4 linked regions of the Homo sapiens genome follow. The protein of the gene in region 2 purifies or fractionates together with the protein of the main gene of each other region. This does not show direct contact. Each region holds a gene or a part of one and is shown on either strand. Other genes may lie near its edges.

What was found.
Region 1: the proteins of TUBA3C (region 2) and TTC5 purify together in Homo sapiens (affinity purification with mass spectrometry, with the first as the bait; 3 studies listed by BioGRID). This does not show direct contact.
Region 3: the proteins of TUBA3C (region 2) and CCT3 purify together in Homo sapiens (affinity purification with mass spectrometry, with the first as the bait; 3 studies listed by BioGRID). This does not show direct contact.
Region 4: the proteins of TUBA3C (region 2) and SLC60A2 purify together in Homo sapiens (affinity purification with mass spectrometry, with the first as the bait; 3 studies listed by BioGRID). This does not show direct contact.

Annotation. Positions count from the first base shown.
Region 1 is NC_000014.9:20,295,897-20,302,953, forward strand, and holds part of TTC5 (tetratricopeptide repeat protein 5), read right to left. Parts: intron 6,070-7,057; coding exon 5,937-6,069; intron 4,923-5,936; coding exon 4,711-4,922; intron 3,553-4,710; coding exon 3,402-3,552; intron 2,993-3,401; coding exon 2,901-2,992; intron 551-2,900; coding exon 494-550; intron 1-493. UniProt on the Homo sapiens protein: Cofactor involved in the regulation of various cellular mechanisms such as actin regulation, autophagy, chromatin regulation and DNA repair.
Region 2 is NC_000013.11:19,173,272-19,178,824, forward strand, and holds the end of TUBA3C (tubulin alpha-3C chain), read right to left. Parts: intron 5,124-5,553; coding exon 4,975-5,123; intron 4,337-4,974; coding exon 3,656-4,336; intron 889-3,655; coding exon 592-888; 3' UTR 501-591; downstream 1-500. UniProt on the Homo sapiens protein: Tubulin is the major constituent of microtubules, a cylinder consisting of laterally associated linear protofilaments composed of alpha- and beta-tubulin heterodimers.
Region 3 is NC_000001.11:156,321,293-156,328,292, forward strand, and holds part of CCT3 (T-complex protein 1 subunit gamma), read right to left. Parts: intron 3,798-7,000; coding exon 3,680-3,797; intron 1-3,679. UniProt on the Homo sapiens protein: Component of the chaperonin-containing T-complex (TRiC), a molecular chaperone complex that assists the folding of actin, tubulin and other proteins upon ATP hydrolysis.
Region 4 is NC_000006.12:111,254,668-111,262,363, reverse strand, and holds the start of SLC60A2 (sodium-dependent glucose transporter 1), read right to left. Parts: upstream 3,026-7,696; 5' UTR 2,664-3,025; coding exon 2,637-2,663; intron 108-2,636; coding exon 1-107. UniProt on the Homo sapiens protein: May function as a sodium-dependent glucose transporter. Potential channels for urea in the inner medulla of kidney.

The sequences.
Region 1 (7,057 bases), on a different chromosome or scaffold from region 2:
ACTATCCCGAGGGAATGGCACCATGGGCTAGGAATCTAGAGAAATAAACTGTTTTCCTTCCTGGTTATTTTCCTGTGCTGCAACAAACAGCCTGAAGAGCTGGTAACACCTTACATCCTTCTTCCTAGCCAAGATGATCACAACCCCAAAGATGGAATCATTTCAAAGAAGCTAATTTCCAAACTCTAAAATAGTTAAGTTGTATATATTGGCTCACTTGACCTTTATATTTACTTAACATTTCAGAAGTCTTCTAAAAGATCCCCCCATTCTCTACCTATTCTTCCACCTCCACAGCCCCTTCTCCTTTCCCTCCAGTGACTACACCAGATACTGAAGCCAAACCGAGCTAGCTATTTATAGAAATAGCATGGCTTTCCTCTCGCAGTCTGTACCCAATCTTGTCCCTATGCAAACTCAGTTATCCTCACAAGCTAAGACATAGGTGTCTTATTTATTTGACCCTCAGATGACTACACCCCAAAGGTCTTACCGTCGCCCTGTTCAGATGAAGGTCAGGATTGCTAGAAGCTTTTCTGTCAACTTTCTCCTATAATGGGATGAAAAGATTATCAGTGGATCCTGTCTCAATGTTAAGGACTGACATGCCCAACATGTCCTACGCCTCCTCTTTCTAGAGAAATGGAAGTTTCTTCCTTGCCAAAATGGTATTTATACCACAGAAGCAGTTACCGTATAACAGTGTGGATATCTTAGTCCCAAAACCTTAGGGATATAAGTGTTTTTGTATGTGTGAGACTTCAAAATATTATTATAATTTATCCATGTAGTAGTATTAAGATAGAATAAATCTTTATATAAATGAAATATGTGGGCCGGGCACAGTGGCTCACACCTGTAATCCCAGCACTTTGGAAAGCCAAGGCTGGCAGATCACCTGAGGTCAGGAGCTCAAGACCAGACTGGCCAACCTGGTGAAACACTGTCTCTACTAAAAATACAAAACTTAGCTAGGCATGGTGGCATGCACCTGTAATTCCAGCTACTCAGGAGGCTGAGGTAGAATTGTTTTAACATGGGAGGTGGAGGTTGCAGTGAGCCGAGATTGCACCACTGCACTCGAGCCTGGGTGACAGAGTGAGACTTCATCTCAAAAAAAATAAATAAATGAATGAAATAGGTGAAATCATTTTGATTTTTAAAAATTTAAATAGTGAAGTGCTGGTAATAAATGAAGAAAGGCTAGGATAGAAATGGTGTTCATTTAATGCATTTCCTCTGCCCATAAACCTAGCTCCAGACACATGCGGAATCATGTTTCTACATCCAAGTTCCCTTAAAACACAGATAGAAAACCAAATTCAGACTCTAACTAAAATAGATGGCCAGGAAAAGAATTTTTTTTAAACAGATAAAATAGATGGCCAGACACCACAAGACAGTGCAGACCATGTGCTGTGAAGCAACTGCTGGCTATGTTCATGACTATGCTTATTATATTTTTTTAATTCTCTTCATTACCTGGCGCATTGTAAAAGCACAAACAACATGAATTAAAATTGTTTAAATGGTTGGTTCAGATATGTTTACAAATGCAGGTCTGGGCGAAAAACTTCAGATTAAAAAGAGATGACCAGGCACGGTGGCTCACACTTGTAATCCCAACACTTTGGGAGACCGAGGCGGATGGATCACCTGAGGTCAAGAGTTCAAGACCAGCCTGGCCAACATGGTGAAACCCCGCCTCTACTAAAAATACAAAAATTAGGCGGGCATGGTGTGGCACGTGCCTGTAATACCAGCTACTTGAGAGACTGAGGCAGGAGACTCACTTGAACCTGGGACACGGAGGTTGCAGTGAGCCGAGATCGTGCCACTGCACTCCAGCCTGGGTGGCAGAATGAGACTCCGTCTCAAAAAAAAAAAAAGATTAAAAAGTGACTATTTAGCAGAAGCCAAATATAAAATGTTGAAGGAATATACCACACTATTCTTTAAAATGTAAACATTCACCAAATTAAGAAATTAGAGTAAAATATAATTGCTCTAAAAGTTCCGTGATTGAAAAAGGGCAGTTTAAAGTCAAAGGTAGAGTTGTGGGGAGAGTGGCAGGAGGGGGAGAAAAACCAATTTAAAAGGGCAGTCCCTGAATTGCAAACATGAACATACAGTAACTGTGTTCTTTATTCTACCACAGGGAGCAGAATAAGTAATGATAAGTTAAAAAGCAATTCTCTATATCAAGAGAAGCAAAAGAAGAAAGGTAAATATGAGAGCTAAATAAAAAGTGCTCAGAGGACCAATGTGAAGTCAGAAGCCAATTCTAATAATGAGAAAAAAGGCACTCAAAGTCTGAGGGAAAGCCCTATGCAAATGCCTATCAACATAAAAATGCTTGAAAACCTAAATAAATTTCTTGAAAACCTAAATAACCTAATTCACTTAATTCCTAGGAAATGACACAGAACAAGCTACACATTGTTTTCTCTTTTAGCCCATGGGAAATCCAGAGCCATAATATTACCTAACGGTTAATTTGGGGATAGCACTTAATTTACACTGAAGTATAAGTTTTCATTATTCTTTAAAATGAATGTACAAAAATATTAATAAGTATTATTTTAATAGACTTTTTTCCCATTAAAAAAGATGAACATGTTGAGGCAGCTCTGTGATTTGGTTATATATGTGTGTAAGAAACCCAGACAGGTCAAGGAGCTATCCAGCACCAATGCGACACGATGCAAGTGGTTCCTAACACTCAAGTTATAAGAAGTCAGTCATCTCTGCAGACACATCTTTGCAAAATCACAAAAATGAGATGCCAGCAAACACTGCCACTGCCCATGATGCTTGCTAAAGGGCCACAAAGAAGACTGAACAATGCTCTTGCTTCTGTTGTTGCCTATTCATCTGGCCTGGTGACCATAAGTACTTACTGCTTGGGCATAGGCACTGAGGGCTTGCTGGGAGATCTTAGGGTTCTGGCCAGTAGAGAAGTAAAGGGAAAGATATGAATTCCCAAGAATATCTGAAAGAGAAACACAGTGACAAATCATCTCAGAGTCCAAGTTCAAGATATGACTTATTTTGATCATTCTTGAAAGTATATTTGAAAGGTCCCACAAGAAATCCAAACCAGGAATGACACGATACTTAGTATACCCAAAACTCCACTAGGATAGAGCACCAAGGACACCAAACTGAAGTTTGAACAGACTGTACAAAAGCCCTTCCTTGCTTACGTGAAAACTAGGATCAAAAGATCGAAGAGTTCCTAGAAAAGTAGTTCCCCAAAATGTCTTTCGTGTGTCTTCAAAACAAAGATGCCCTCTCTGGCTTAAACCTCAGAATCACACTCAAAAGAGGGACTGCAAATGTTGCTCTGATTGAAAACATCTGCTCTAGAAACCTGTTGGAGATCTTTTGAGAGCACTCACACCAGGAGCGGCCATCATGGACATCCATCTGAACAGCCAACTTAGCCTGTCGGACACTGTCCATGACATGGTGAGAATGTTCATCTTCAGTGTCAGTCCGCAGCTGACGAAGCACCATTGACAGGTTTTGCAAGGAGACTTTGTTCCTGCACTGCAAATAGGAAGGGCACATACTCAATCTTCCTGATTCTACCTCCCCTTTCCAGATCTATTCTGAACTCAGTCTTCTAAATCTAATTTTTTACCTTTCTAAGTTTTTTGTTTTGTTTTGTTTGAGGTGGAGTCTTGCTCTGTCACCCAGGCTGAAGTGCAATGGCGTGATCTCGGCTCACTGCAACCTTTGCCTCCCGAGTTAAGTCTTTCTCCTGCCTCAGCTTCCCAAGTAGCTGGGACTACAGGTATGCACCACCATGCCCGGCTAATTTTTATATTTTTAGTAGAGACTGAGTTTCACCATGTTGGCCAGGCTGGTCTTGAACTCCTGACCTCAAGTGATCTGCCTGCCTCAGCCTCCCAAAGCGCGGGATTACAGGTGTGAGCCACCACGCCTGGCCGTATTTTTCTTTTTGTGACAGGGTCTCACTCTGATGGAGTGCAGAGGCACGATCTCAGCTCACAGCAACCTCCACCTCCTGGGTTCAAGTGATTCTTGTGCCTTGGCCTCCTGAGTAACTGGGATTACAGGCACATACAACCATGCCCATCTAATTTTTGTATTTTTTGGTAGAGGCAGGGTTTCACCATGTTGGCCAGGCTGGTCTCGAACTCCTGACCTCAAATGATCTCCCCACTTTGGCCTCCCAAAGTGCTGGGATTACAGGCATGAGTCACCACGTCTGGTCCATGTATATATATATATTTTTTTTTTTTTTTTTTTTTTTTGTAGAGACAAGGTCTCACCATGTTGCCTAGGCTGGTCTCAAACTCCTGAGCTCAAGTGATCCTCCTGCCTCGGCCTCTCAAAGTGCTAGGATTACAGGTGTAAGCTACCACACCCAGCCCTAATTTTTTCATCTAAATTCTTGCTGCCATCTGTATCTTCAACCCCCATCCACAGGGATCAGCTTAGCTGCTAGCTTTTCTTCACTTCCTTTCTCCCCCTGAACCTGATCCCATCATCATCTTCCTTTCCCAGGCCCCTGCCTCTATTTTCCTCATTCAGGTCTGCTCTCTGACCTTTCCTCCCTCCTGATTCTGTCCTAGTTCAATTTCAGTTCTACTCTGGTATTCATGTCCTAGGGAAACTCATAGAACCAAAGAAATTCATCCTTCCCATCTCTGCTTTCCAAAGGGATAGGGGGCAGCTCACATGGGTGAGGGCTCCTGAGAAGCAGGTGTGGGCAGCTGCAACATCCCCTTTTTTCCAGTACACCTCACCCAGCTGGTTCCAGGCTTCCACCAGCTCGGGCTCCAGCTTCACAGCCTTTGACAGAAGCTCCTCAGCCTTAGGGCTATAGTCAGGAGTCACATTTAGTGCTTTCCCAGTTAGCATTAGAACTTGTGCCTTGCCCTGGACAGAACCTAAGAGGAAGAAAAAAAGATAAAGTGGGAAAAAAACAAGTTAAAGACCAGGGCACTTTCTCTCAAAAAATAACTACACGTCAGTTTTAGGAATAAAAAGAGTTGGGGAAAATATTTATCAATAAACCATTTATTGAAAGCTCACCATAGGCAGAGTGTATGTTAGCTAATTAGGCAACAAAGAAAGCACTATTTCTAGAGCTTCTGCCATCTGTTTCTTGGGCCCCTATCTACAAGGATCAGCTCGGTTGCTAACTTTCCTAGAGGGGTTTACAATCTAGTGGAGAAGACAAAGCGTAAACATGGAAAATTAAAACCATGAAAAAGAGCATATGGCATTAGCCCAATGAATGGGCTTTAACAAGTGAAGAGAAGATGAGTCAGGACAAATAGTTATCGTTAAAACAAAACAGAGAGAGAGAAGAAAAGACCCTCCAGGTTAGAAAATGATATAAACAAAGACACAGAATCAGAAGTACATGTGGCCATGTTCATGGGAGAATAGACAGTTCAACCTGGATGAAACAGAAAGTTCCTCTACAAGTAATTAGTCAGAGATAAGGTTAGAAAACAGAGTAAAACAATGGACACTTAAATACCAGGTTAAGGGGGTTAGACTTCAGCTAGTCAATAGCAGGAATCTTTAAAGATACCTGAGCAAAAAGGCAGATGAGAGGATAAGGTTAAATGCATGAAGTAATGATTTAGAAAGATAGCCATGGCCATGGTATTATATAAGTGGATTTGAAAGTAAAAGAAATTAGAGGCAGAAAGTCAGATTACTGCAATAGTTCAAGTAAGTATGCTCTTTCATTTCATGCCATTTGCTATAATCAAATTTTAGGAAAAGTGGCTTAGGGAATGAAAGGTTGCACAGGGGCCCTGAGAAGTAGTATTACGTTGTACTACCCTATAGCAGTAACAGATAGGATACCAAAGAGTCAATGAGGAGGGAGCAAAGGTCAATCACATTTCACTGAAGGATGGGGGTTGTACAATCTCTAGGGCTCATACCCACTACTTCTTCCATCTGCTGTAGGGTTTTCTCCATCTCCTTCTGCACATCCTGTTGCTTCCTCCCAGCATCCTCAACACTATGTGTCTCGAAATAGCAGTCTCGAAATGAGTAGAGCTGATCCACGAGTTCCTAAAAAGTATGACAATGGAACCATTAAGTGGAAAGATCACTGGATAGGGAAACTTGAAATTGGCTAGCCATACCAGCTCTTGGTCTAGAAATACCAATTCTCTTTCTCACCTATGAATGGCACAATAGGCAGGTGGACAGGTTTACTAAAATGCCACAAATCATGAGGAAAAGCAGCCAGTACCCCAGGCCAGCTCTCATGGTCCCATGTTGTCCCATGCCAGTGTCTCTATTGTGATGACCATTTTCTCTCCCTGCCTCAGCAGGGCTTCTAATATGACTAAGCACTTCACATACCACAGTCATGAGGAGGGAAACACTGCAACTTAAGATAAACCAAAAGTTAGTAAGATCATTCTATATGGTCCTGGTCCTCAAAGAATAACACTTTGAAATTTACCCTTAAAGTTGGACTTCTCAACTAAAACCATTTTATCCCTGATTTTTCATATGCTGAGATCTGAAAATACAACACAACCTTTGTGAATATAATAAACATGTTAGAGAGTCATTGTTTTCCACCACAAACATACCAATTTGAACTTGGTAACTTTGGTATCTTTGCAGCATTTTGTTCTTTTAAATGCTTATTGTGGTTTTGTTTAGTTTGATTTTTTTGTCAAGTCATCTTCTGGCTGCCTTGGATTTTTTACAAATAAATATTCTCTTTCCTCTTAAATGCCTCTGAGTCTTCCTGTCACACCAGGCAAAGCTTTTCTACTACAGGTCAAGCATCCCTAATGCAAAAATCTGAAATCCTCCAAAATCTGAAACTTTTGAAACGCTGACACCACAAGTAGAAAATTCCACACCTGACACACAGTCAAAATGCGGTCAAAACGTTGTTTCAGGCACAAAATTATTAAAAATATTGTATCAAATTACTTTCAGCCTATGTGTATAAAGTGTAAATGAAACAATTTTTTTTTTTTCTTTTTTAAAAGACAGGGTCACCAGGCGTGGTGGCTCATGCCTGTAATCCTAGCAC
Region 2 (5,553 bases):
CTGAGGGGCAGAGTGGCCGTGTGTGTGCACGGAGGGCAAATGCTGTCTTCCAGGTTACTGTGGAAGGCTGGGTGTGTTGTAACCTTCTATGGGTCACGAATGCTGTGCAGAACACAGTAACACTCTTTCCCTTCTAAAATGTCCTGACCTTACACATTTGACCCACAGCTTTAGGGATTTCATGGACAAGCCCCATCCACAGACCTCAGATTTAAACACTCCATGTCTAGACTCTTCTTTGTAGCTCGCATCACCCATCAATAGAAAAGCCCCCAAAGTTGCAAATTCAGTTGAAAACCCTGACTGTGCTTTCCTAGAATTTAGGAAATCTATTTCTCCGTGTCAAGTTACTTCTGTGGCAGCTCCTTAAGTATGTACCATCCCGCTGCACCCAACTCCATGCTAGCAGGGCAGGCTGGCACCCCACCACTGTCCATGCAGGCTCTGGGGGTCCCACCTGCTCCTGCAGGCAAAGCTAGGCAGTACGATACACAGAGGTCTTGGTTTTATACAGAACCTTTAATTGCAAAGAACTTGAAAGCAGCCACGCTGGGGGTGGCAGTGGAGTGGAGAACCCACCACACCCTCCCCTCAGTATTCTTCACCTTCTTCAGCCTCGGCTTCCACGGAATCCACGCCCACCTCTTCATAATCCTTCTCCAGAGCTGCCAGGTCCTCGCGGGCCTCAGAGAACTCCCCCTCCTCCATGCCTTCTCCCACGTACCAGTGCACAAAGGCCCGCTTGGCATACATGAGATCGAACTTATGGTCCAGGCGAGCCCAGGCCTCCGCGATGGCCGTGGTGTTGCTCAGCATGCACACAGCCCGCTGCACCTTGGCCAGGTCTCCCCCAGGGACCACCGTGGGGGGCTGGTAGTTAATGCCCACCTGCCGGAGAAGAGGAAGAAACAGTCCATGAAGCTTATATCAAACCTGGAAATGGTGGCTGCTTTTCCTCAAAAAGAAGACACCCTGTAGGTGAACAGGAGAATTCTCAGTTCACCCCACAAATGTCACTAAGCCCTTCTCTGTGCCAGGCAGGGTGACAGTTCCAGACAACATATGTTGCCCAGGCTGGCCTCAAACTCCTGGGCCCAATCGATCCACCCACCCCAGCCTCCCAAAGTGCTAGGATTACAGTCATGAGGCAGCATGCCCAGCATTTTTTTTTTTTTTTAAGAATAAGGTATTTTCTAAAGGATTTTTGTGCCCCTTTCTTGGGTGGTAGAATTCATGTGGAAAAGGTAGGTTGAACTTAGTAATTTTATGGGCATTTTGGGGAATCTTGTAGGTGGTGTATATATTTTATTTTAACTTGGGCATTACTATAAACTGCTTCACAACATCATTCGTTCCACTGTCTCATGTAGGGTTTGATTTAAAAAAAGAATGAGTTGTTTGTGATGAAAACAGCAACAGGTGCAGTGGCTCACACCCATTATCCCAGCTCTTTGGGAGGCCAAGGTGGATTTCTTGAACTGAGTTTGAGACCAGCCTGGGCAGTATGGCAAGACCCTGTCTCTACCAAAAATACAAAAAAATTAGCTGGGCATGGTGTCATGCACCTGTGGTCCCAGCTACTCAGGAGGCTGAGGTGGGAGGATTGCTTGAGCCTGGAGGGCAGAGGTTCCAATGAGCTGAGATCCTACCACTCCTTGGGTGACAGAGCAAGACCCTGTCTCAAAAAAATTAAAAGGCCGGGCACGGTGACCCACACCTGTAATCCCAGCACTTTGGCAGGCCGAGGTGGACAGATCACGAGGTCAGGAGATCGAGACCATCCTAGCTAACATGGTGAAACCCGGTCTCTACTAAAAATACAAAAACAAAATTAGCCGGGTGTGGTGGCGGGCGCCTGTAGTCCCAGCTACTCGGGAGGCTGAGGCGGGAGAATGGCATGAACCCAGGAGGCGGAGCTTGCAGTGAGCCAAGATCACGCCACTGCACTCCAGCCTGGGCGACACAGCAAGACTCCGTCTCAAAAACAAAACAAAACAAAACAAAACAAAAAGCAGCAACGTCTTTATTTCTTTTCCGGGAAGCCTAGTAATTTTGGCCTGGGTTTGCCTCAGACACAAAATCTGTCCCCACCTTCCACTGACACAAAAGAAACCTTGCTGTCCTCTTTCAGCTTTATCAATAGTTGGTTACTAAATCTTGTGGCATTTCTCTGTTGGGCCTGTGCGTTCTTGTGCTGTGCTTTCCCTGCTGCCTCTGGCTCAGACCCCCACCGTCTCTGTTGGGGGAGACCACTGCAGTCAGTTCTGACTGGGATTTCCTACTGTGGGTGTCTCTTCTTCTCCTTCAGGGGTTAGCACAGCTGCTGGACTAGCCACCTAATTTTGTAAGATCTTGTCTGAACACAGCCACCACACCCCTTCATTTGCAGATTGATTTTGCTATCCGACAGCAGAGTGGGGTAGGTGTGACAGAGGTCGTGTAACCTGTAAGGCCTAGAATTTGTATGATCTTGTCTTTTTTTCTTTTTTTGAGACAGAGTCTTGTGCTGTCACCCAGGCTGGAGTGCAGTGGAGTGATATCTTCTCACTGCAACCTCCACCTCCTGGGTCCCAGTGATTCTCCTGCCTCAGCCTCCTCAGTAGCTGGGATTACAGGTGCCCGCCACCATACCCGGCTAATTTTTGTATTTTTAGTAGACACGGGATTTTGCCCTGTTGGCCAGGCTGGTGTCAAACTCCTGACCTCAGGTGATCCGCCTGCCTTGGCCTCCCAAAGTGCTGGATTATAGGCATGGGCCACCATGCCCATCCAATTTTTGTATTTTTAGTGGAGAGCTGTGATCACCACACTGCACTCCAGCCTGGGTGACAGGTGGGATTCTGTCTCAAAAAAGTAAATAAATAGGGTTGAGCACAGTGGCTCATGCCCGTAATCCCAACATTTTGGGAGGCTAAGACAAGCAGATCACTTAAGACCAGGAATTTGAGACCAGCTTGGCCAACATGGTGAAATCCCTTTACTAAATACACAAAAATTAGCTGGGTGTAGTGGTGCATGTCTGTGGTCCCAGCTACTCAGGAGGCTGAGGTGAGAGAATCACTTGAGCCTGGGAAGCAGAGGTTGCAGTGAACCGAGATCACACCACTGCACTCCAGCCTTCTCAACAACAAAGTAAGTAAGTAAAGCTCATCACAGATACATAGTGTAATGACTTAGAAAGAGTTCAAAAGACATCACTGGGCCAGGCACAGTGGCTCACGCCTCTAACCCCAGCACTTTGGGTGGCCAAGGTGGGTGGCTCACCTGAGGTCAGGAGTTCAAGACCAGCCTGGCCAACATGGCATAACCCTGTTTCTACTAAAAATATAAAAATTAACTGGGTGTGGTGGTGGGTGCCTGTAATTCCAGCTACTTGGGAGGCTGATGGAGATTGCAGTGAGCTGAGATCACACCACTTTACTCCAGCCTGGGCGACAAAGCTAGACTCTGCCTCAAAAAAAAAAAAAAAAAAAAAAAAAAAAAAAAAAGACATCACTGAATTAATGATCACTCTGGTTCACTAATTGATGCCCACATGCCTAGCCCATGGAATAGGGGTAGTATCCTCAAAGGATGTGGGCCTTCAGGGGCAGCATTACTCTGTGTGTCTGTTGCTTGCTGAAAGGTACAAGGACTCCACATTACCCAGTCATACCTTAAATCCAGTTGGGCACCAATCTACAAACTGGATGGTGCGCTTGGTCTTGATGGTGGCGATGGCCGCGTTGACATCTTTCGGGACCACATCCCCCCTGTACAACATGCAGCAGGCCATGTACTTGCCGTGGCGAGGGTCACACTTGACCATCTGATTGGCTGGCTCGAAGCAGGCATTGGTGATCTCAGCCACGGACAGCTGCTCGTGGTAGGCCTTCTCGGCTGAGATGACCGGGGCGTAGGTGGCCAGGGGGAAGTGGATGCGGGGGTACGGCACTAGGTTGGTCTGGAATTCCGTCAAGTCCACATTCAGGGCCCCGTCAAATCGCAGGGAGGCCGTGATGGAGGACACGATCTGCCCAATCAGGCGATTGAGGTTGGTGTACGTGGGACGCTCGATGTCCAGGTTGCGCCGACATATGTCATAGATGGCTTCATTGTCGACCATGAAGGCACAGTCAGAATGTTCCAGGGTCGTGTGGGTGGTCAGGATGGAGTTGTAGGGCTCCACCACGGCCGTGGAGACCTGGGGGGCTGGGTAAATGGCAAATTCTAGCTTGGACTTCTTGCCGTAATCCACTGAGAGCCGCTCCATGAGCAGAGATGCGAACCCAGAGCCAGTGCCACCCCCAAAACTGTGGAAGATGAGGAAGCCCTGCAGTCCCGTGCACAGATCCGCCTGAGGGAAACCAGACAACATGAATCAATGCCCGTGGAAGCCACACCACCAACCTCCACCAAGCCAGGGCCACTTCTCTGCCTCTGAAGACTTGATATGGATTCCAATCATCCATAATAAACACGCAGTACACTCTGAAGCAAAGAAAAGCAGACAAAGATCTACAGACAAATCACCATGCATACTTCAGACTAAGACCATTGCAGACGCAATAGGACTCAAGATACTGTTCTAAGTTGTTTTTTTTTTTTTTTTTTTAGATAGAATCTCACTCTGTTGCCCAGGCCGGAGGGCAGTGGCATGAACTCCGCTCAGTGCAACCTCTGCCTCCCGGGCTCAAGCCATTCTCCTGCCTCAGCTTCCTGAGTAGCTGGGACTACAGGCAGGCACCACCACGCCTGACTAATGTGTGTATTTTTAGTAAAGACAGGGTTTCACCACGTTGGCCAGGCTGGTCTCAAACTCTTGACTTCAGGTGACTGCCCACCTTGGCCTCCCAAAGTGTTGGGATTACAGGCGTGAGCCACCAGACCCAGCCAACGCACTGGTCTAGGTTTTGACAAAATGACCTCCCCTTCACAATCTAAGATCTACCCTCCTGTGCAGGACAATGGTCACATGAAGCCTTCTCTTCTTACCAGTTTGCGGATCCGGTCCAGGACCAGGTCGACGATCTCCTTGCCGATGGTGTAATGGCCTCTGGCGTAATTATTGGCCGCATCTTCCTTCCCGGTGATCAGCTGCTCTGGGTGGAAGAGCTGCCTATAGGTTCCTGTGCGCACTTCATCTACAAAAGAGACCGTATGTACTGTGAATCTTTAAGGCCTATACTCACCAAGATGGACACATTCCAGGACTGTTCACTTCTACAAAGTACATGCTGTTCAAAGTACATGACCTACATGTTGTAGGTCAACAGTGGCAGTGTCTGGTAGAAAATGTCTCTGTGTGATAACCAAAGTGCAAATGTGTGATAACCAAACTGTGATTTATGACTCTAGGAAGTGAAACTCAGCTTACAATATAAATGTCAGCACGACCAGCTCCCAGTGAAGGGAAATAAGCTCCAGCACCCCCACACAGGTAATTCTACAGGTACATAATTCTTTCCTACATGTAGCTACATCGAAGGCTGTAAGTTAAAAATGCTTACAAACTGAGAAGTCACCAGGTCAGTGTGACTTCTGCAGGGCAGTCCCATCAGGGCACCCTGTGTG
Region 3 (7,000 bases), on a different chromosome or scaffold from region 2:
TTCCTTATCTTCTGCTTCAACCAAGTAAACTTTTCAACTTTTACAACTCAGGTCAAGACACATTTTTTTTTATGAAACTTTATCCCATAACTAGCCAACTTTAAGAGTTTTATCAAATCATTCATTTGAACAGCAAATTTTATTTTTAGCTCATGGTGTGTCACAGTGGTCAAAGATGACCACCAACTGGTCATCTTTGTGTTTTTATGTTACTGTAAACACATTTTATGTATTTACCATTTTTATATTACTTTCACTCCTCACAAGATATTTTCACATAATGCTAAAATCTCTTTTTTGGCTGTGCACGGTGGCTCACGCCTGTAATCCCAGCACTTTGGGAGGCCAAGGCGGGCAGATCACTTGAGGTCAGGAGTTCGAGACCAGCCTGGCCAATATGGTGAAACCCCATCTCTATTAAAAATACAAAAATTAGCCAGGAGTGGTGGCATGTGCCTGTAGTCCCAGTTACTCCAGAGGCAGAGGTTGCAGTGACCTGAGATCATGTCACTGCACGACAGCCTGGGTGACAGAGTGAGATTCCGTCTCAAAAAAACCCCAAAATAAACAAAATCCCTCTTTTAACAGTGAAAGGCACATAATATACCAATTATTAAATGGTTGAATTATGGACTTTTGGGAAGAAGCAATGACTCCAAAAATGGTATCTAAGATAAAGGGGGCTGGGTGCCATGCTTCACGCCTGTAAACCCAACACTTTGGAAGACTGAGGATAGCTGGAAGCCCAGAGTTAAAAACCAACCTGGGCAACATAGCAAAACCTCATCTCTATGAAAAATTTAGCAGGGCGTGGTGGACATACCTATAGTCCTAGCTACTTGGGAAGCTGGGGCAGGATTGCTTGAGCCCAGGAGCTGGAAGCTGCAGTAAGCTGTGACTGCACCACCGCACTCCAGCTTAGGCAACAGAGTGAGACCATATCTCTAAAAAATAATTTTTTTGGGAGGCCGAGGTGGTAGGATCACCTGAGGTCAGGAGTTTGAGACCAGCTTCACCAATATGGTGAAACCCCATCTCTACTAAAAATACCAAAATTAGCTAGGTGTGGTGGTATGCGCCTGTAGTCCCAGCTACTTGGGAGGCTGAGACAGAATTGCTTGAACCGAAGAGGCGGAGGTTGCAGTGAGCCGAGATCATGCCACTGCACACTCCAGCCTGGAAAACAGAGCGAGACCCCCCGCCACCCCAAAAAAATTTTTTTAATAAGATTAAAGTGTTCTAGGTAGGCAGTTATTACTTGATTAAAAAAAAAAAATATTTCAGGCCAGGCACGGTGGCTCACGCCTGTAATCCCAGCACCTTGGGAGGCCGAGGCAGGCGGATCACCTGAGGTCGGGAGTTTGAGACCAGCCTGACCAATGTGGAGAAAAACTCCGTCTCTACTAAAAATACAAAATTAGCCAGGCGTAGTGGCACATGCCTATAATCCCAGCTACTCGGGAGGCTGAGGCAGGAAAACTGCTTGAAGCCAGGGAGCAGAGGTTGTAGTGAGCTGAGATCCAGCTATTGCATTCCAGCCTGAGCAACAAGAGTGAAACTCCGTCTCAAAAAAAAGGCTTTCTAAGCGTGAAGCTCCACACAATAAAACCTTTGGGTACCTCTACATTCTCACAGAGCTTACTGCATAAAAATAATTAGATCAAACACCTCATTCTTAAGTGTGCCAGACAAAGATATTAATGTACAACTTGTTTAAGAGCAGGCAGTATATGGCCAGGCGCGGTGGCTCACGCCTGTAATCCCAGCACTTCGGGAGGTCAAGGTGGGTGGATCACCTGAGGTTGAAAGTTTGAGACCAGCCTGACCAACATGGAGAAACCCTGTCTCTACTAAAAATACAAAATTAGCCGGATGTGGATGCACATGCCTGTAATCCCAGCTACTCGAGAGTCTGAGGCAGGATAATCACTTGAACCTGGGAGGTGGAGGTTGCAGTGAGCCGAGATCGCGCCATTCATTGCACTCCAGACTGGGCAACAAGTACAAAAACTCCGTCTCAAGAAAAAAAAAAAAGAGCAGGCAGTATAATATAAACCTCACCAAATTACTAAACACTTATGCATCTAGTGACTCAACCATATGAGTAGAATATTTAAATAAAGAAAAAAAAAACTATTTCCAGTTGGGCGTGGAAAAAATATACATTTTTATTTTTATTTATTTATTTTTGAGATGGAGTCTCGCTCTGTCGCCCAGCCTGGAGTGCAGTGGTGCAATCTCTGCTCACTGCAAGCTCTGCCTCCCGGGTTCATGCCATTCTCCTGCCTCAGCCTCCCAAGTAGCTGGGACTATAGGCACCTGCCACCACGCCCGGCTTATTTTTTTGTATTTTTAGTAGAGATGGGGTTTCACCATGTTAGCCAGGATGGTCTCAATCTCCTGACCTCGTGATCCGCCCGCCTCCGCCTCCCAAAGTGCTGGGATTACAGACGTGAGCCACCGCACCCAGCCCTATTTTTATTTTTTTTGAGATGGAGTTTTGTTGTTCGCCCAGGCTGGAGTGCAATGGTGCGATCCTGGCTCACCACAAACTCCGCCTCCCGGGTTCAAGTGATTCTCCTGCTTCAGCCCCCCGAGTAGCTGGGATTACAGGCGCATGCAACCACACCTGGCTAATTTTTGCATTTTTAGTAGAAATGAGGTTTCACCATCTTGGCCAGGCTGGTCTTGAACTCCTGACCTCAGGTGATCCACCCGCCTTGGCCTCCCAAAGTGCTAGGATTACAGGTGTGAGCCACCATGCCCAGCCCAAGTCTTACTTTTTATTTTTTTGAGACAGAGTCTCACTCTGTCACCCAGGCTGGAGTGCAGTGGCACAATCTCGGCTCACTGAAACCTTCGCCTCCCGGGTCCAAGCGATTCTCCTGCCTCAGCCTCCTGAATAGCTGGGATTACAGGCGCCTGCCACCATGCCCAGCTAATTTTCTGTACTTTTAGTAGAGACGAGGTTTCACCATGTTGGCCAGGCTGGTCTCTAACTCCTGACCTCGTGATCCACCCACCTGGGCCAAAGTGATGGGATTACAGGCGTGAGCCACCGAGCCCTGCCAGGTTTTACTTTTTAAACAAAAATTTTTATTCAAGACACTGCTCTACATGACTCTACGTGATGTTAAACCTTAACTAAAATTCCCTGAAGCTAGAGGTAATATATGCTTTTCTTTTTTTTCTTCTGAGATGGGAGTTTCGCTCTTGTTGCTCAGGTTGGAGTGCAGTGGAGAGATCTTGGCTCACTGCAATCTCCGCCCCCTGGTTTCAAGCAATTTTTCTGCCTCATCCTCCTGAGTAGCTGGCATTACAGGTGTGCGCCACCATACCCAGCTGATTTTTTTTGAGACGGAGTCTTGCTCTGTCACCAGGCTGGAGCACAGTGGGGCCATCTCAGCTCACTGCAACCTCTGACTCCCTGGTTCAGGCAATTCTCCTGCCTCAGCCTCCCAAGTAGCTGGGACGACACGCATGCGCCACCATGCCCAACTAATTTTTTGTATTTTTAGTACAGACGAGGTTTCACCATGTTGGCCAGGATGGTTTCCATCTCCTGACCTCAAGATCCACCCGCCTAGGCCTCCCAAAGTGCTGGGATGACAGCCATGAGCCACCACGTCTAGCCAGGCCTCTCATATTTGATACTACCTATTTCTTGCCCCCAAGATACCTTATTTTCTTTAGGGTGCTGATCATATCATCCAATGCCTTGCGGTAAGCACTGATCACCACTGTTGGGTGCATCTGCTGCTCCAGGAAGTGCTCAGCTACAGACAGCATTTCCCCTGCTGAAAAAGATACAAGCACCATAGTAATATTTAAAGCATCTGGATATCAAGGCAAGTAACTTAATTATTCTTCCAAAAAATACTCTCCTAAATCAGACTCTCCCAAAAGGTATGACATTTGGCCATTCATACTATTCCAAATTCTACACATTGTATAAGACGGCAATTTATACAGAAAACATCCTTGTTGCCCAGGCTAGGCATGGTGGCTCATACCTGTAATCCCAGAAATTCAAGATCAGCCTGGGCAACACAGTGAGACCCTGTCTTTACAAAAAAATTTAAAATTTAGCTTAGTGTGGTGGTATGAGCCTGCAGTCCCAGCTACTCAGGAGGCTGAGGTTAAGAGGATCACTTGAGCCCAGGAGGTTGAGGGTGCAATGAGCCATGACCGCACCATTGCACTCCAATCTGGGTGACAGAGTGAGACCCTATCTCAAAAAATAAAATGATGAAAGACTGATTCTAGGGCTTACTTATTCTTTTGATTTTTTTTTTTTTTTTTTGAGAAGCAGTCTCGCTGTGTCGCCCAGGCTGGAGTGCGGTGGCGCAATCTCTGCTCACTGCAACCTCCGCCTCCCAGATTCAAGCGATTTTCCCACCTCGGCCTCCCAAGTAGCTGGGATTACATGCATGCATCACCACACCCAGCTAACTTTTGTACTTTATTAGTAGAGACGGGTTTTACTATGTTGGTTGGCCAGGCTGGTCTCGAACTCGTGACCTCAGGTGATCTGTCCACCTCGGCCACCCAAAGTGCTGGGATTACAGGCGTAAGCTACCACGCCTGGCCTTCTCTTGATCTTTCTAAAAAAAAATTTCCCTGAAGGCTCTAAAATAAAGAAAAATGCACAAAAGAAAAACTGACTTGTTTATTAGTACCTTTATACCTTAGGATGTAGTCAAACTGCTTGAACTAAAAACAAAACACACAAAACCCTACCTCTGAAAGAATATTCAGGGCTGGATGCGGTAGCTCACACCTGTAATCCCAGCACTTTGGGAGGCTAGGGTGAGCAGATCACCTGAGCTCTGGAATTTTTAGACCAGCCTGAGAAACATAGCAAAACCCTGTCTCTACGAAAAAATTCAAAAATTAGCCAGGTATGGTGGCATGTGCCTGTAGCTACTTGGGAACCTGGGCTGGGAGGACTCATTGAGCCCAGAAGGTCAAGGCTGCAGTGAGCCGTGATCACACTATTGCACTCCAGCCTGGGCAATAGAGCAAGATTCTGTTTCAAAAAAATAAAAAATTAAAATTAGAAAATGTGCACAATTAAGGCTGGGTGTGGTGGCTCACATCTGTAATCCTAGCACTTTGGGAGGCCAAGGCAGATGGATTACCTGAGGTCAGGAGTTCATGACCAGCCTGGCCAACATGGTGAAACCATCTCTACTAAAAATACAAAAATTAGCCAGGCATGATGGCACATGCCTGTATTCCTAGCTACTCGGGAGGCTGAGGCAGGAGAATCGCTTGAACCAGGGAGGCGGAGGTTGTGGTGAGCCAAGATCGTGCCATTGCACTCCAGCCTAAGCCACAGAGTGAGACTCCATCTCAAAAAAAAAAAAAAAAAGAAAAAGAAAAAAAAAAGAAAATGTACACAATTTACCCTCTGGATAAGGGATTATTGGTAAAACATCTCCTTCTTTTAAAATTTGTCTTTACTTTCTGGCTGGGAATGGTGGCTCACACCTTGTAATCCCAGCACTTTGGGAAGCCGAGGCAGGCAAATCGCTTGAGACCAGGAGTTTTGAGACTAGCCTGGACAACATGGTGAAACTGTCTCTACCAAAAATACAAAAATTAGCCAGGTGTGTTGGTGGGTGTCTGTAATCCCAGCTAGTTGGGAGGCTGAGGCACAAGAATTGCTTGAACCTGAGAGGCAGAGGTTGCAGTGAGTGGAGACTGTGCCCAGGCACCCCAGCCTGGGTGATAGAGTGAGACTCTGTCTCAAAATAAATAAACAAATAAAATTTGTCTTTACTTTCTAATAGACACACACAAAATAACATATACATAGATGCAAACCCACACACAAAAAAGCTTGTTTCTAGAAAAAGTATAAAGAGAGTATTGTAAATATTCTTTTTGTCAAAAGCCTTTTGCACAAATTGCTTGTACTACCTGCTTACTGGCAGGTAAAATAAGCTTTTAAAAATGTACATAGCCTCTCGCCTCTCCCCTCTCCCCTCTCCCTCTCCACGGTCTCCCTCTCCCTCTCTTTCCACGGTCTCCCTCTGATGCCGAGCTGAAGCTGGACTGTACTACTGCCATCTCGGCTCACTGCAACCTCCCTGCCTGATTCTCCTGCCTCAGCCTGCCGAGTGCCTGCGATTGCAGGCGCGCGCCGCCACGCCTGACTGGTTTTCGTATTTTTTTGGTGGAGACGGGGTTTCGCTGTGTTGGCCGGGCTGGTCTCCAGCTCCTAACCGCGAGTGATCCGCCAGCCCCGGCCTCCCGAGGTGCCGGGATTGCAGACGGAGTCTCGTTCACTCAGTGCTCAATGGTGCCCAGGCTGGAGTGCAGTGGCGTGATCTCGGCTCGCTACAACCACCTCCCAGCCGCCTGCCTTGGCCTCCCAAAGAGCCGAGATTGCAGCCTCTGCCCGGCCGCCACCCCGTCTGGGAAGTGAGGAGCGTCTCTGCCTGGCCGCCCATCGTCTGGGATGTGAGGAGCCCCTCTGCCTGGCTGCCCAGTCTGGAAAGTGAGGAGCTTCTCTGCCCGGCCGCCATCCCATCTAGGAAGTGAGGAGCGTCTCTGCCCGGCCGCCCATCGTCTGGGATGTGGGGAGCACCTCTGCCCCACCGCCCCGTCTGGGATGTGAGGAGCGCCTCTGCCCAGCCGCGACCCCGTCTGGGAGGTGAGGAGACCCTCTGCCTGGCAACCGCCCTGTCTGAGAAGTGAGGAGCCCCTCCGTCCGGCAGCCACCCCGTCCGGGAGGGAGGTGGGGGTCCAGCCGCCCCATCTGGCAGGGAGGTGGGGGGGTCAGCCCCCCGCCCAGCCAGCCGCCCCGTCCGGGAGGTGAGGGGCGCCTCTGCCTGGCCACCCCTACTGGGAAGTGAGGAGCCCCTCTGCCCAGCCAGCCGCCCCGTCCGGGAGGGAGGTGGGGGGGGTCAGTCCCCCCGTCCGGGAGGGAGGTAGGGGGGTCAGCCCCCGGCCCGGCCAGCCGCCCCATCCGGGAGGTGAGGGGCGCTTCTGC
Region 4 (7,696 bases), on a different chromosome or scaffold from region 2:
TATCCCAAGGCACGACCCACAAAAATGAAAGACAGACTACTGATATTTCGGTTCACGTTTGTTGCCAAATCTTGAAACGTGGGTCCCACTATAGCAACACTCAATCCCTAAAATTTAAAAAGACAAAAGTTTTTACTTATAATCATTAAAATAATGTCTAACTATGTGGTAGTTTCTTCCACTATAAAAAAAAAGGGGGGCGGAGGGTCTGGGATTTACAATGTAATGTAGGGAATTAGACTACTGTTTTTTTAGTTTTGACTAAAACTCTTATTTTTTTTTTGTTTTGACACCTCTCAGTTTTTAAAAAATTATTTTTTTGTTGCAATCCTGTTTCCTTTCTGAACAATACCTTTAAAAGACTATTCTGTATTAATAAAATGTAATATTAAAACTATTTTTGAAATGGTTTCGTACATTTTGAAATATATTACATGCACAAATAAGAATTTGGGTATTAAAAATTTAAATTGGCCGGGCACAGTAGCTCACGCCTGTAATCTCAGCACTTTGGGAGGCCGAAGCAGGCGGATCACGAGGTCAGGAGTTTGAGACCAGCGTGGCCAACACAGTGAAACCCCATCTCTACTAAAAATACAAAAATTAGCTGGGCATGGTGGTGGGCGCCTGTAGTCCCAGCTACTCGGGAGGCTGAGGCAGGAGAATCGCTTGAACACGGGATGCGGAGGTTGCAGTGAGCCGAGACTGCACCATTGCACTCCAGCCTGGGCGACAGAGCGAGACTCTGTCTCAGAAAGAATAAATTAATTAATTAAATTAAGTCAGGTGTGGTTGCTTACACCTGTAATCCCAGCAATCTGGAAGGGAGAGATGGTAGGACTGCTTGAGCTCAGGGTTTTGAGATCAACCTAGGCAACCCCATCTCTACAAAAATAAAAATGAAAAAAATCAGCCAGGCGTGGTGGCGCATGCCTGTAGTCCCAGTTACTAGGGAGGCTGAGATGGAAGGATCGCTTAAGCCCTGAGGTCGAGACTGTAGTGAGTTCTGACTGAGCCACTGGAAAACGTCAAAACCTTGATCAAAACATCAAAATATGATTCCTGTTTTTTATGTTGTTAAACAGCAATATTTCTGGATGCACATGGAGTCCTTCCCCTGAACTATACATATAAAACATACAGGAGATAAACAATTTAAATGTTTCTAAATCTACACTTTTCTTCCACGCCATCAGAATTAGTCAGTAAAGGTTGCTTAAAAAATATTACACGCCCAAGTACAGAATGACTTTAACAATAAAACTTTACTCAATGCAGTGTCAGCAAGAGGTAAGGATTACAATTGACTTTCAGAGGAAATTCATTGGACATTTAAAGAAAAAAATGTTTCCAATCAGTCTACATTTCCAGAATAACTGATTCTAATTGCCCTGCTCTGCTCTAAATGCATGGGGTGCGCCCCCTGCCCAACTCGTAACAGTCCAAGACCACGGACCACTATGGGCCCAGGTGCACAGCAAGCACCTCGTACTTCGAGAGAAGCCTGAGCACAGAATCTAATCAAATTAGTTCATGTCTTCAAAGGATTTACAACAGGACCGGACAAGTCAGTGACGACTCACCAAAAGTCTGAAGTGATTTCTTTCTTCACCCCTCCCCACCGCCCCCAATCAAAATACTCTAAGAAACAACTGTGGCTCAGAGTCCCTGAGATGGTAAGTGACCACACATGACTCTTGGGAGGACTCATCCTCTCAACTCCCCCAGGATCATAATTATCAAGTGATAAGGAGGAGGTTTCCGAAAAGTGAATTGAGTGGCGACCCAGGGGTTTGGCAAAAGGCGCCTCTAGGCTTGCCCTTTGCTCCAAGAAAAACATTTAAGAATCTAAAGGTTGGTTTTATTAATAAATAGGATGGTGGGCAGAGTAAAAGACATATTTCTGGCTCTATCACTTAACCAGCTGTGTGATCCAGAAAGTCACTTTCCCCTCCGGGCCTATTTCCTTATCTGCAAAATTAAGCGGTTGGCTGAATTTGGTCAGATCACCAGGAAGAAATTCCAGAAAAGTAGTTTTTCTGTGTAATAATTTGGGGGTTGAGTGGGTGGGTGCGGAGAGCAGCGGCCAAAGACCTGGTGAACCCCTCTTGCAACCTTCCCATCCGACGAAGGAGACGTAGGAAGGCTTGCCGGGCCGGGCGCCGTGGCTCACGCCGGTAATCCCAATACTTTGGGAGGCCGAGGTGGGCGGATCACCTGAGGTCAGGAGTTTGAAACCAGCCTGGCCAACATGGCGAAGCCCCGTCTCTACTAAAAATACAAAAATTAGCCGGGCTTAGTGGCAGGCGCCTGTAATCCCAGCTACTCGGGAGGCTGACGCAGGAGAATCGCTTGAACCCTGGGGGCAGAGGTTGCAGTGAGCCGAGATCGCACCACTGCACTCCAGCCTGGGCAACAGAGCGAGACTCCGTCAAAAAAAAAAAAAAAAAAAGCTTGCTGGAGCTGAAAGACGTATTCAGAAAATCTATTTCCTCCAAGATTAGAATTGTGCCCATTTTCTAGATGATGAAACTGAGGCCCAGTCAGATTAGGTAACGCGCCCAAGGTCAGTTTGCAAGTGGCGAAGGCAAGACTCGAACGCCCCGGCCTGGGAGTGTTGCAGCCCCGGCTCTCACCAGCCCCAGGAAGGAGGCACACAGCATCAAGGTGGTGAACCACCGCAGCTTGCTCCCGGTCCCACCGCTCTGCCAGGAGACCACCACCACCTCCGGCTCCGGCTCATTCTCCGCCGGGGCCTCCGCCTGCAGGAGCCGCTGCCCCGCAGCCGGGGGCCCGGCCCCACGGAGCTCCACCTCTAACTCCAGCTCGGCGGCTCCGGAGAAGTCGTCTTGCTGCCGCCGCGCTTCTCAGCAGAACTTCTGGAGCTCCGAGAAGAGCACTGGCCCCGACCCCAGGCACGGGTGTCCCTCCGGGCGCCACCTCCCAGCGGACCGCCCGGAACCGGGGCAGAGAAGAGGAACTTCGGCACGCCGCAGGTGTTCGTGGCAAAAGACGCTCGCTCTCCAGCAAGCAGGCGCATGCGCGGGTCACGTGGCGGAAATGTGGCCTCTCGCCAACCGCTATCGTGCCTCAAGCCGGAAGTTGATATGGTTGCCTAGGAGACCGGACGTAGCTCTCTAGCCTAGGCATCATACTTAGCTGAGCTCACAGAGGCTGGCGGACGTGCGCCCCATGGCGGAGCGAGCTGAAGTTGCAGCCTGGGACCAGGGAAATCAAGAGGTAAAAATGCGGCCAAACCATTATGAGGAAAAGGGGCCAAGAATTACACTGTAGCGCCTCGCGCCGGCTCCCCGGTCTCCTGGGGAGCGAAGGGAGCCTGAAGAGCTGGTCCTTATACAGCTTTCTGAAATCCCTGAGATCTGTCAATGAATCGCGCATCTTTCACTCCACAAGTATTTGTTGAACGTCATTGTGTAAGTTATCACGTATATTATCTCAACCCTCACAACACTCCAAATTCCACGTTATCCCCGTTGTACAGATAGAAAGATTAAGTCATAGAAAATAATTAACAATCTGCCCAAGCTCAGTCATCGAATTAGTGGCCGTATATAAACAGTGTAACAGTAGCTCAAGAAAGAAATCGGGATCCAAAGCTGTGGTTTCAAACACAATTCCTGAAATAATTCCAATTCCTGAAATAATTCCATCGTTGTAAAGAAGTGGAGCGTGGCATCGATTTGAGGAATTTTTTTTATATACTTTAAGTTTTAGGGTACATGTGCACAACGTGCAGGTTAGTTACATATGTATACATGTGCCATGTTGGTGTGCTGCACCCATTAACTCGTCATTTAACATTAGGTATATCTCCTAATGCTATCCCTCCCCCCTGATTTGAGGAATTGTTTTCCTTTTGCTCTTTAACAAAGCGTACCACAGCCTCAAAATGTTATATACTTTTCTTTGTGGTCTATTTGAAATGTTCTTTTCCACCTGATTCTTCCAACTTTCATCCACTTAGGCTCCCAGACTACAAACCTTAGTCTCATCATCCCTTGCAACCCGTCTCTCCAGACTTATTCGTTTAGTCATTAAGTCTTCCCCCCACCCGCACCCCCACTTTTTTTTTTGTTTGTTTGTTTTCTTTTTTGAGACAGAGCCTATGTCGCCCGGGCTGGAGTGTTGTGGCGCTTTTTGGTAGAGACGAGTTTTCACCATGTCGGCCAGGCTGGTCTCGAACTCCTGACCTCAAGTGATTCGCCTGCCTTTGGCCTTCCAAAGTGCTGAGATTACAGGTATGAGCCACCATGCCCCGCCAAGCATTTCTTTTTTATTTATTTATTTATTTATTTATTTATTTATTTATTTATTTATTTGAGACGGAATCTCGCTCTGTCGCCCAGGCTGGAGTGCAATGGTGCGATCTCGGCTCACTGCAACCTCTGCCTCCTAGGTTCAAGCGATTCTCCTGCGTCAGCCTCCTGAGTAGCCGGGATTACAGGCGCGTGCCACCACGCACGGCTAATTTTTTTATTTAGTAGAGACGGGGTTTCACCATGTTGGTCAGGCTGGTCTCGAACTCCTGACCTCATGATCCGACCGCCTCGGCCTCCCAAAGTGCTGGGATTACAGGCGTGGGCCACCGCGCCCGGCCCGCCAAGCATTTATTTTAGAGCAGGTCAGCTGGCATTCCTTCATATGAGAATGTCTTTATTTCACTTTGATTCCTGAAAATATTTTCACTGAAAATAGAGTTCTGGGCTAACCGTTATTTCCTTTCAGCACAGAAAGATGAGATTTCTATTCGAGTTTTAGCTACCCATGCCACCCAACAGTTCCCAGCTGGGGTCTCTCCTCAGGACAAACCACAAGAAAAGAAGAAAAAAGCCAGGAAATTCATCCCCTTGCAGGTTTCTAAGTTTTGACTCCCTACCTCAATTCTTTATTTACTTTTCAGAGGCGGCAGGTAGTTGCCATTTGTATTTTGTCATGAGTCTTTCAGTCGTAATCAGTGAGAGAGGGGCTGAAGTAGACTAATGACGCCAAACCAGGACTTTTCTACCTATCTTTGGAGAATCCATGTTAAAACAAACAAACAAACAAACAAACAAACAAAACCTACTTTGGTAGGTAGTCTTTTCTCACCTGCCTTTCAGCCTTGAGGCTGGTTTAGTTTCACAACTATATAGTTGTGCTGCTCCTAAATCTTGTCACAGGTTTTACCTCGTGTTACAGTTCTTTTAGCACTTATCTTCAGTTCCTTAGTAGATTATAAACTCAATGAGATTGAAACTATGGATGTTATATGTCTCTCCCCTAACATTGTATTACATACTTAGTAGCTATTACCTAACTGAATTGATTAATTACCTAACTGAATTGAGGTTCAGTAAAGCCATTTTTAAATTAAATATTTTAATTCACCCTGATTAAATGTAAAAAAAAAAAAAAGAAAAAGCCTTCTCTAAATGGAAAGATCTACTTTCTGATTCTTCATTCCCCACTTCACTCTTGAAAGCAGCAGTATATTTTTTCCAGTTGCCTCCAGAGGTCACCCACCACCTTTGAGAAAAAAAAAAAAAAAAAAAAAAGCATAAACTACAGCATTGCTTCATGCAGATTTCTCTTAGATCAATAGTGAGGATCAAGTTTTTTCTTGAGAGGCAATTTCAGAGAAATAAAGTGTCTATGAGCCACATTTTCTACTGAAAATAAATATAGCTTTATTGATTCTCTTAAAAAATAAGTATTTTACAATGTATATGGCTTAATTTATCTAAAAGGAAAATATCTGGATTTTAGTCACTAATCTGGTACTATCTGGGTGTATTTGTGAAATAGTAACAAGAAGGCAGGTTTTAATCTTTCAACTTAACTTTTTACTTTGGGTGAGAGAGAGAAATTAGACAGATCATGTTTGGAGACTGCATATCACTGTGAGGACCTATTTAATTTTTATTTGCCAGAAGGACCATCCTTTTTACTTATCATGTGATGTCCAATTTGTGCTTACAGTGCATCATGAAGAACTAAGTGTCACCATAACTGTTTCTTTCTGTATACTAAACTATCATTCTTTAACTTCACTGCTAAAAACCCAGTCTATTAAAACTATCTCTCACGAAGATTTAATTTCAGTTAGACAACTTTTATGGTTTATGCTATGTACTTTGAAAAGTTAGAAATAATGTTGAAATGATCTGACATTGGTGATGTTTGATAGAATAAATTATTTATCTTATTAAAAATTAAAACTTACTGATTTTTAAGTTTCCTTTTTTAAAAGGTATAAACTTAAAATTTTCTTCTTTCTTTCTTTATTCTTTCTTCCTTTCTTCTTTCTCTGTGGGGAAAAGCAAGAGAGATCAGATTGTTACTGTGTCTGTGTAGAAAGAAGTAGACATAGGAGACTCCATTTTGTTCTGTACTAAGAAAAATTCTTCTGCCTTGAGATTCTGTTAATCTATAACCTTACCCCCAACCCCGTGCTCTCTGAAACATGTGCTGTGTCAACTCAGAGTTAAATGGATTAAGGTCGGTGCAAGATGTGCTTTGTTAAACAGATGCTTGAAGGCAGCACGCTCCTTGAGAGTCATCACCACTCCCTAATCTCAAGTACCCAGGGACACAAAAACTGCGGAAGGCCGCAGGGACCTCTGCCTAGGAAAGCCAGGTATTGTCCAAGGTTTCTCCCCATGTGATAGTCTGAAATATGGCCTCGTGGGAAGGGAAAGACCCCAGCCCGACACCCGTAAAGGGTCTGTGCTGAGGAGGATTAGTATAAGAGGAAGGCATGCCTCTTGCAGTTGAGACAAGAGGAAGGCATCTGTCTCCTGCCTGTCCCTGGGCAATGGAATGTCTCGGTATAAAACCCGATTGTATGTTCCGTCTACTGAGATAGGGAAAAACCGCCTTAGGGCTGGAGGTGGGAACTGCGGGCAGCAATACTGCTTTGTAAAGCATTGAGATGTTTATGTGTATGCATATCTAAAAGCACAGCACTTAATCCTTTACATTGTCTACGATGCAAAGACCTTTGTTCACGTGTTTGTCTGCTGACCCTCTCCCGACAATTGTCTTGTGACCCTGACACATCCCCCTCTCGGAGAAACACCCACGAATGATCAATAAATACTAAGGGAACTCAGAGGCTGGCGGGATCCTCCATAATGCTGAACGCTGGTTCCCCGGGTCCCCTTATTTCTTTCTCTATACATTGTCTCTGTGTCTTTTTCTTTCTTAAGTCTCTCGTTCCACCTTACGAGAAACACCCACAGGTGTGGAGGGGCAACCCACCCCTACATTTCTCTCCCTCTCTCTTTTTTTTTTTTTTTTTTTTGACAGTCTTGATCAGTCACCCAGGCTGGAGTGCAGTGACATGATCATAGCTTACTGCAGCCTCGACCTCCGGGGCTCAATCAATCCTCCGGCCTCAGCCTCCCAGTAGCTGGGACTACAGGCATGTGCCTCATGCCTGGCTAATTTTTGTATTTTTTGTAGAGATGGGGTTTTGCCATGTTGCCCAGACTGGTAGAATTTTAACTGGATTCACTGTAACATTTAGGTCTACAGCATTCTTTGACTCTACCAACATACGGGTATCCTATGCTGTATTGATCAGATAAAATCTTTGCTGACTGTCCTATTAATAACCAAGATCAGAGATTAAGAAAATAAAAACAATGCAACCAAAAGTGAGAACATGGCAAGTGTAGGTGCTATGAGAACAAAA